2 separate regions of the Homo sapiens genome follow, and region 1 is linked to region 2. The links come from fine-mapping of genetic effects on gene expression. Tissue or cell type: whole blood. Region 2 holds a variant in brackets; the other region holds the start of a gene. All regions are shown on one strand. Distances are between the middles of the regions.

Region 1 (5,000 bases), 37 kb before region 2:
TTTTTTTTTTTTTTGAGACAGAGTCTTGTTCTGTCATCCAGGCTGGAGTGCAGTGGCACAATCTTGGCTCACTGCAACCTCTGCCTCCCAGGTTCAAGTGATTCTCGTGCCTCAGCCTCCCAAGTAGCTGGGACTACAGACGCACGCCACCATGTCTGGCTAATTTTTTGTATGTTTAGTAGAAATGGGGGGTTTTACCATGTTGCCCAGGCTGGTCTCGAACTCCTGAGCTCAAGCAATCCACCCACCTCAGCCTCCCAAAGTGATGGTATTACAGGTGTGAGCCACCATGCCTGGCCTGCAAGTTACCTCTTGATTTAAAATATTTTCCAATCATGAAGGAAATTGACTTGATTCTGCTACTTCCCTCCACCTCTGACTTTGGGGGTAGGGGACAGATAAGCAGAAACTGCTGAACATGACCCTCAGCCGGCTGGGCAGCCATCCCTCAGCCACAGTGAGCTTGATTTGCGTGTTCCAGTAGGAAGCAAGGAGTCAGGTCCTTCTCTAGTCCTGGGGAACAGGAGAAGGGTGGGGGAACCCCTGATTCCTCCCCTTCTGTAGCCAAAGCAGACTAGTTTAGGGAGGAGACAGGGAAACCACCAGAGCAGGTCAAGATCAACCTGAAGGAAGTGGGAGTCAGGGACAACCTACTAAAGGAAGTGCATGTGTGCCTTGTACATGCATGGGGTGGACCAAGGAAAAGATTTACCCTAAAAGAACAAAGTATGCTCCGACAAATCTATTGAAAGGAATGATTTACACTGGTGCTTCCTGCCCAAATGTTGAGACCAATGGCCTGGTGCTTCCTTCTTGAAACTAGGTTGCTCTACTTACATGAAACAAACTGGGCAGAGGTCAACCGTGAGAGCCTGAGCCTCCCCAAGTAAACAGCAAAAGATTCCCCAGGCCCAACAGCCCCCACCCCCACCTTCAAGGAAAGTGGATCTACCCGGAGCACGTAGGCCAGAGGAGGCAGGAGAAGAGGGTCAGTCCGTGAGCTCCGGGTACCTGGAGAACATGAATCTCCCGGGTGTACTGTCCCCATGAGGGTCACCGAGGAACCTATGGATCTTCCACTCTTCGCCCAGAATGTCTTCCCTCTATCCCCTCCACCTCCCCAAATTCCAGCACCAGGGGCCACCTCAGAGCCACAAATCCTGAAAGGACCACCCAGGTGACTCGGGCCCACACACCCCTCTTTCGGGGTACACTTGGTGGCAGGCTAGCAGGCTTTTGGCCTCAGCTGGTGGTGCCATATAACCAGATTCGTCACAGAGACCCATTTTTTATCAGTCCCAGGCCAGAAGTACGAAGACTGATCTTAACGATGTGGCCTGCCTGGGAGGTAAGGCGGCAGGCGTTGCCAGAATTGATGGGAACTGTGGCACAGGTGGGAAACCTGGTTTAACAAATTCTTCATTGATTCAGGGGACCACTTTCCTTGAGCCAAGTCTTGGCAAGCGGCCGGCGAAACTCACAGGTCCCTTTCCTGGCTGCGTCCCCAGCCTCCAGCCTTCCCCGCCCCAGAGATGCCCCAGGAGCGGCCCCTCGGTGTAGGTAACGGGTGCCCGGGCGGCTCCGCTCCGCCGCCTAGAGCCTGGAAGCCGCCACTGCGGCCCAGGACAATCCGGCTACGCGGCCGGCGCCGACCCCGCACGCTGGAGTCCGCTGCCGCACGGCGCTGGCAGTCGGGGGTGGTGTCTGAAGTCAGGCGCTTCCTGCCTTTTCGTCGGCCCGGGTGCCCGGCTCGCGCCGCCAGGCTCTGGGATCCCAGGTCGCCCCGCCCAGCAGCCCGCGCCCTGCTCGGTGCGCTCAGCGTCCCCGCCCCTTACCCCAAACCCCCACCCTCTGTGCCCTCAGGGGGGCACCCCCATCGGGGCGGGAGGGGGGGGTCAGCTGTGCCCCGGTCGCCGAGTGGCGAGGAGGTGACGGTAGCCGCCTTCCTATTTCCGCCCGGCGGGCAGCGCTGCGGGGCGAGTGCCAGCAGAGAGGCGCTCGGTCCTCCCTCCGCCCTCCCGCGCCGGGGGCAGGCCCTGCCTAGTCTGCGTCTTTTTCCCCCGCACCGCGGCGCCGCTCCGCCACTCGGGCACCGCAGGTAGGGCAGGAGGCTGGAGAGCCTGCTGCCCGCCCGCCCGTAAAATGGTCCCCTCGGCTGGACAGCTCGCCCTGTTCGCTCTGGGTACGTACGCCGGCTGCGGCGCCCCCTGCGCCGCGCGACACCCTGCTTCCCCCGGTCCCCGCCGAGTTCCCCTTTCCGGGGGTTTCTGCGCCCGCCTGGGAGAGTGGAGAGAAGCGAGTAGTCTCAATGGGTTGGCGCCTGGGAGGCAAGGGGAGTCATTAAGAATGACAAAGAGGGGACTGTCCGGTCGAGCGCCGAGGCTTCCCCGGGAAAGTGGCTGCCTGGGCCGTGCGTGAGAACACCTGGGAAGGGGAAGCGGAGTGTGAACGGGCTTGAACTTTAATCCGCCGCAGCTGTGTGTCTGCTCAGACACATGCCTACACCTACCTGCTTACCTGGCTGCCTCCAAGCCCGGCTCAGCCGGCGTCGCTGGCGTGTAGACTGGGCCGCCTCGGAACGGGGGCCGGCGTCTAACCCTCTGGCCGGGTCTTGCCTGCGCCCCTTTGGCACCCCCTGCCCACCTCTAAGCCCCAGCGACGAGCAGAGATGTTCAAGATCGGCAGAGGCGCCCTCGATCTCTTTTCAGAGCTCTTGAGCTTTGGGGGTAGGTTTTGGATTTTTGGGCGGATTAATGGTTCCTTTAATTAACTTCCCTGGGAGAAGTGGTTTCGGTGTCCGCCGAGGGCAGGAGCGAAACCCTAGACCGAGTGTTGCCAGTTTCCTTTGAGTATGTCCTTGGAAATGAAGGAGGGATGGGAAAGGTGAGGGGAAGTTAAACCCCTCTCCCGGGTCGGGTCTGCGGAGCGGTGCGTTTTTTGGCGGTGAAGTTCAAGGGTCTGTCTGGACGCGGTGAGGGCGCAGCGCCGCGCGCCTCCTGGCCAATTCTTGCCCCTTGTGCTGGTGGGTCTCTCTGGTGTTGAGATAGCTGATCAATAGCGCAGGTGTCCTGGTTATTGCTAGTCTTCCGTGAAGTGAATTGTTCGTTCGATATGCCCCGAGTTTAACCCGTATAGCATGCGGCTCGCTGCAGGGTGGTTAGAGTCTGTGGAAAGCCATGGAACTCCTCCCCAGAAATGCCCAGAGCCGCAGCCTCACCCAGCTCCGTGTACAACTACAGGGGGTTCGCGGCCCCGCCTGCAAGCCTGCCCTAGAAACGCTGATTAAAAACCGCAGCAGAAGGGGAGGCATCCTGTAAGAGAAATACAAGGCAGTCTTGGAACCGGATGCTCCCAGCTACACCCTTACCTGAAACTCACCAGCAGGTAACATGGGTATGGGAGGCTTTTCCCCCACATTTTTGAAGAATTGCCTTTTTTGTGTGCATGTATTGACTGTTGCTCTGATTTAAATTTTAGAAAAAGCAATAAAACATTACCAATACAAGGGAAGCTTCCTGGATATAATTATCCCTTGTAATGTTTTTGCAAATAATAGTAGTAAGTAGTAGTAGTAATAACAGCTGATGCTATTCGAGCATTTTACTCTGTGTCAGACACAGTCCAAGTGCTTTACATTTATTCATGCAGTTTTCACACCAACCGGATAAAGAAGGTGTTAATATTATTCTCATTATATAGCAGAGGAAAGTAAAGCACACAGGGTCCACAGTAAGTAACTGGACCAGGATTGTCGAAGAACGTGGAAGGAATGTGAATATGAAAAGTCACCTAACTTGTGGTCATTATAGTCCCATCTCTCTTTTGGGACTTTGCCTTAAAGAGAGATTATGTGGAATACCCTGGAACTTGTTGTTAAATTGAGTTTCCTATTGAATTCCTGGGATCTCAAGGTGGTTATTCGGTAAAAATTAGAGGCAGGAAATGATGAAGATAAGCACATTTGAGTAAGTGTTTGAAAGCTGTCCCTACACCCCACACTCCCATCCCAGAATTCTCGCCCACAAAGACTGCATTCATTCATCATGTAATTTTTCTCTTTTGCCTGAATGTTCTTTTCAGCTTGATCTTTGTTTCCTTCTTTAAGAAAATGATGTATAAACTTTAAAAGATTGATCAATATGTAAAAACTTGCTCACACAGTTCCAAAATGTGAGCAGTTGAAAAAAGTGGAGAAAAAAAAAAGGCAGGAGTAATTTACACCAGTGAGGACTCCTTTTTATTTATATGTCTTTAAAAGAAAAATCACAGCTGTGAGTTCTGTGCGTTTACTAGAACTGCTGCCTCCCACATATAGCTTTACTTTGCACATTTCCTTCAAAGCTGCTTTCCCCTCTGATTTTTCTTAAATAGTTGAAGGCAGTTCCAGGAGAATCAACCAGTGTTCCATCGCTACCCGAGATCTAGGAAACCTCCGTGGGGCTAGTCTGAGAAGGAACTGGCTGTTAGGAGTCTCGGTTAATGTTTGATTACTTGGAACCTGAGCATTGATTAATGTTTTCAGTAAGAGAATGTGAAGACTGTTGCCCAAATGGCAACACTGGAAACATAACCCAGGTTCCTGTGGTGGCTGCCCTCCCATGTCAGGTTTCCATCACTGGCAGGCAGACCGCACGGGGGCTTGGCATTTCCAGTTACATTTCCTCCTCTGTGTTCACGGAGCAAGATGTGTGATCTTGGGCAAGTTACTTAGCTTTTCTATGCCTTGTTTTTCTCACCTGCAAAATGGGGATATTAATAGGGTTGTTGAATATATTTAATGTATGCAGAAGGGTGCCTGGTATGTAGTAAGATCTTAATCTTATCATCATCATCATTGTTGTTGTTACTTTGGGCCCCATAGAATTCCAGACATCATTGCAGGTTATGTGAGTTGTATAACTGGGAGAGTTTGTAGGTTTTCGTTTATCTCATCTCCATGCTCTTTACCATTCCTTCGAAAAATATCACCCAACCTAAAAACCTACCTAGGTAATTTCTGG
Region 2 (5,000 bases):
ACCACCTCGTCTGAATCCAGAACATCCTTCATCCAAAAGGACCTGCTGCAGCCTCTTCATCCTCCCACATCCCCCTGAAAACAAAAACTTACCCTTCATCCCTTCATGCAGGAAGTCTGGCTTAGAGGATCCCAAACAGGTGAAAGGTAGAGCTCTTGATATTCTAGAGGGAGCAACTGATCCATGCAGTGGAGTACATAGGGGCCTGAAAGCAAACCCCAGCCCCAGCAGAGGCCAGAGCAGGACATGGTCCACTCTGCTGAGGTGGTCAGGGGCCAGAGGATGCTCCTCCCAGCTCCAGGCACTATAGCTGAGTGTCCACAGAAGAGGTGGTCACCAGGCCAATGGGTGGTTGATGATGAAGGGTGTCTGACGCTGAAGGCACAGCCTGGGTATCTGTGCAGAATTGCTAGTCCCATGCCTGATTGAGGAGTTGGAGTGGGGGTATCCTGCTCTGGGGCCCAGGGGAGAGGGGTGTCCAGCCTCTCTTAAGAGCATTTCCCATTGACACATCAGCACATAGGTTTTGGGATGGCTCCACTTCTGGGGACTCATGAGCTAAATGGGTGAGCCTCCTTTTTACCTTGTTTCTGTTGGGAACATTTACCTGAGTACCAAACAGCTGAACGATAAGCATGGCAACACTTGTCCTTCCTAAGGGCAGACCAGGTTCCCACTCTATTTTGAGGGACACAGGATCAGCCTTTCATAAGGGTTTTCTTCCGTTGCATGTGGTTTTCCCCTTGATACCACCCCCTTCTTTTCTTTTTTCTTTTTGAAGTCCACAGTCTTGGGATTTCCCTCTTTGGAGCTATTTAAACAGAAATAGGATGCCAGCAGGAGTGGCCTAGAAGGGATTCCTAGAAGCCTTCCTGTCCCGAGGGCCTGCGGCGGGCAAGGACCTGCTTTGAAACTTAGGCAGGAGGAGCCTGTGGCTGTGGGCCACCAGGCCTGTGCACTGTGTGTCTCCCTGAGCCACTGCATGTGGCTGCGGTGCCTGTGGCTGTCCTCTCCCCATCCTTCCTTTGTTTGGAGTGACCCTTGGAGCCTGCCAAGGCCACATGTTTCTGGAAGGTCCTCACACAGCCTGGCTTTCTAAGCACAGTCGTGTGGCCAGAGGGCTGGGCAGCTGGTGAGCCTGGGTGCTCATACCTTTGCCCCTCATTAGACCTTGTTCATGGCAGGGAGACTGGAGGCAGTGGGAGAATCCCCAAGAGGCAATGCATGACTCTCAGGGAGAGACGGATCAAGGCTCAGCCGCTGGGCCTGCAGAGTCTGTTGTTTGGACTAACTTGGGGTTTGTGACTGCTGAATACACACCTGTGTCACAACTGGCCATGGTGAGAAGGACTGTGGTGTGGTCTGGTAATTAGACACTGTCTTGTGCATGGGAGTTGGAGACACTTGAGTTTGAATGTGGCTGCAGGAGCTTGGGCAAATTTCTTAACCTCTCTAAGCCTCAGTTTCTTCATCTCTATGACTGGGCATTTCTACCAGCTGGACCAGAAGGTTGGGAGGCACCTATGTCATGAGTTGTTATAAGGACTAAGTAAGAGAACACATGCAGAACATTAGCACTGGGCCTGGGACTAGGTCATGCCCAAAAAGTGGTACACATCCACCTGCAAAGTGAGAGACCTGAGCCCTGTCCTCCTGCTCCAGGGTCCTCTTAGGTTCACCACATGATGAAGACAAAGCAGAGGCCTTGCCGCTCATCACAGGGCCTCAGCTGATGCTAGGCATGGATCAAGATTGCAGAGTGAAGCCCAGGGCACCAAGAAGTTGTTTTCCGTGAGGGTATAGAAAGGACCTATTCTTCTTGTGTTGCTCAAATTATGAATAAAAAGCCAGTGTCTTTCATCTGTGGAACATCGTGGTTTTGCAAACTTTAATTCATTCCCAAAACACCTCTGTGAGTTTAGCAGCTGCGAGCTCACAGGTGAGGAACAGAAGGTGAAGTAATTTGCCCCAAGGCTGGGGAGCAGGCCCCCATTGCACACCCTCATCTTCCTGGAGCAGTGGTGCTCATCAGTGTCTTGTCCTGGATTCAGCTGTACAGTGTTTGCTTTCTTGTCTGGGTTTTGCTTAAACAGAGGCCAACATGGAGCCCAGGAACCATGCTGACTGGGTTCACCCTGACTGACAGGATAGGGAGCAGGAACAGGGCATGAAGATAATTCTTTAGTTCGGGGCAGTTTGTGACAGGCAAGTCACGCTTCCCCTCAGAGTATGCAAAGCATCCCCGGTGTCATCCTTGAACACTATTATGAGTCACTGGCTGACTTTAGCCAAGGATGGTTTGTGGCAGTGCCAGCGAAGTCAGAACATGACTGTTCCCCAGCTTCAAGGGGGCAACTGCTGACTTTTCCCGGCTTGGATGGGGATGCCTTGTTTTAACACTGGTGTGTGGGTGACAGAGGGGCCCTGGGAGCCTTGCTTCCAAAATTAGCATCAATTGGACAGCAAGAAAGAATTGCACAGGGAAGACATGCATGATTTTACTGATTTTCTCTCCCTGTCCCCCTGCCCTGCCTCCAACTCCAGCCCAAACATCTGGCTTAGGATTCTGTAAAAGTCTTTCGGAGGTCCATGCCAGACCTCCAGTAAAAGCAGTCTGAAGTTCTTATGTTTCTCATTTCAGAGGTTGGAAGGAACATCGGGAGCATGATTGCTTTATCTATTCCAAGTGTGTTTTGTTCTTTGAGAGTCAGGACTTCTGTGTCTACACCCTAAGTGAAAAGGGGCAAGGAACCCTCACAGCCTGCAGAGTAGGGGGCTGCATCGATCCTGTAACAGACAGAACTTTGCTTGTTTCCTGTGCTAACTTGATTCATTTGCTTTCTGAGCTAACCTGTCAGAGGCCCAGCCCCTCGGCACAGCAACT[G/C]TGGCATCTTTTTGCGTTTCAGTTTTGGGAAGTCATTCTAATGTGGCTCATGCTGATTGCATAACTCAGAAGAGGTTCCTTCTTCATTGGAAGGTTGCTACCATTTCCAGAAACCTCGAGTACTGTAATCTGAAGGCACATAAAGGTCATCTGTTGGCAGGGCTGGTTTTATGGGCATGCAACCTGTATAGGTCACACAGGACCCCATGCTCACAAGGGCCCTGAGCTTGAGGTTTAACACTCTGCAGTTGCAGTCTTAAAAATCTTGTAGTTTTATCTTTAAATTTGCGTCTTGTAGGTGAAGTCCAGTGGGACAATACAGTATGCACTGGGGGCTTAGAGGCTTTGTTCCCGTGGTCCTGCTTATTAATATCTCCCTGCCTCCCCTAGGTTTTCTTGCTCCTGCCATGATCTATCCCTGGCAGGGCCTGGGGTTAAGTACATGGCATCTCAGGGTACGGCATGGTGGCAGCTGTCCCCATTCTGGACTGGCAGCTCCATGGCATCTTCAGTGGGCAACTAGAGAGGGGTGAGCTGCTTGACTCCCCCTGATCCAGGTACCTAGTACATCCTGGCAGGGAGGAGGCAATATCCTTAAGGGGTCACCCATCCATCTTGGGTTGGGACAGCCACTTCCTGGGAATAAGAGATACCTGACTAGACCCCTCAACCCCCAGCTGGGTCACAGCACATTGGCCCGGCTGCCAGCTGGAAGGAAACCCCAGAGGGAGTGGGTCCTTTGCTCCCTTACACACTCTGTCCCTGGGGTATACCTGTGAGAGGCTGCACTCAACCTGTGGGTATCCTCATACCCAAAGGACAGCAATGACATAAATAGCAAACAAACATGATGACATGAACAACAGGGTGAAGGTACTTAATGTCACTGAAATGTACAATTAAAATGGTTGAAATGGTAAATTTTATGTTACGTATATTTTCCCACCATAAAAAAATATATATTTATAAGGTGTTAAGAAAAAACAAAGGCCAAAACCACCCTGACAGATGGAGAGAGAGACTGGGAAGAAGTGGAAGGCTCTGGATTTCAGTGCTTTTCATGGGCATTTTCTTCTTACTTTTTCAACAAGGGGTCCCATGTGCTCATTTTGCACTGATATCCACAAATTATGTAGCTGAGCCTGTCTACCGGCCACTCTGTGAAACTACCGAACCTTTGCCTGTCAAAGGGCCTGCCCTCTAAGCGTCTGAGGACATCATTTGCCAAGCAGACTCTGACCTTTTCCCTCTTCTCCTCCACCCAACAGGTATTGTGTTGGCTGCGTGCCAGGCCTTGGAGAACAGCACGTCCCCGCTGAGTGGTGAGTGCAGCTGCCGTGGGTGTGTGGATCGTGTGTGGGAAGGGAGCGGGCCTGCTGCTGTGTGGCTCCTCAAGAGCTCCCTCCCTGGCCTCCTGCCCACCGAGCACACGCCTGTCCCGGAGTCCTCTCTGCCCCCTCCTCAGGGGCGAGGAGGCGCTCACTGGAAGGTCTTAACTGCAGGCCCAAGGGGGGGCTGTTCCTGGCCCCCTCAGGGGCCTCCCCTACGTGTCTCTCTTCAGCTGTTCAGACAATTCCTGTGGGCAAGTGTGCCAAAACAGGGCCTGCAGGACCCCAGAGCTTGGGGCCAGCTGTTTTCCCCACTCTCGTAATAGTCCACCTGAAGTAGAACCCAGATTTCTGAACCCTCATCGGTGACCTTTGTTTAGTTATTTTCTGGTTTACGTTTTAATACTTATAGTAAAAAAAAAAAAAAAATCGGTATTTTTTTTTATTATTATTTTAAAGATTCTAAATCAAAATAGTGGAGAGCTTGGGACATGTAGGAGGCAAACCATCAGTGGCCACAGCACTGCAGGGGAGCAACCTCTGTTTGATTTGCATGTTGCTTTTGCCCTTTCTCCATGTGTGTTAATATTTTTATACGAGTAGTCCTGGTGAGGAAACAATGTGGATTCCTGCTTTTTAAGCTCAAATGTTGGGGCTGTGCATTGTTCCATGTTGCTGGAAAGTCTTGAAATCTCTTCTCTTAAAATGTCATGCTGTCTCATTAAAGTGAACATGGGTGATTTAATGAAACATTTCCCATTGGATATTTACGGTGGCTCTAGTTTCTT

The links. PIP is the estimated chance that this variant, and not a neighbour inherited with it, causes the effect.
Region 1: TGFA starts here. The variant in region 2 is fine-mapped to the expression of TGFA in whole blood (TOPMed, PIP above 0.99).

What each region holds. Positions count from the first base shown.
Region 1 is chr2:70,550,910-70,555,909 of GRCh38, reverse strand. TGFA (transforming growth factor alpha) reads left to right here and starts at 2,084. Exons shown (of 6, transcript NM_003236.4): 1 at 2,084-2,182. The coding sequence starts at 2,143. LOC124907824 (a long non-coding RNA gene) reads right to left here and starts at 3,202. Exons shown (of 2, transcript XR_007086906.1): 1 at 2,518-3,202. RefSeq lists a silencer at 1,954-2,023.
Region 2 is chr2:70,514,065-70,519,064 of GRCh38, reverse strand. TGFA (transforming growth factor alpha) reads left to right here. Exons shown (of 6, transcript NM_003236.4): 2 at 4,153-4,206. Among named protein-coding and RNA genes, the nearest start is that of TGFA-IT1, 35 kb to the right of the region's middle. RefSeq lists an enhancer at 4,289-4,791. The variant G/C (reference allele first, on the strand shown) is at 2,885.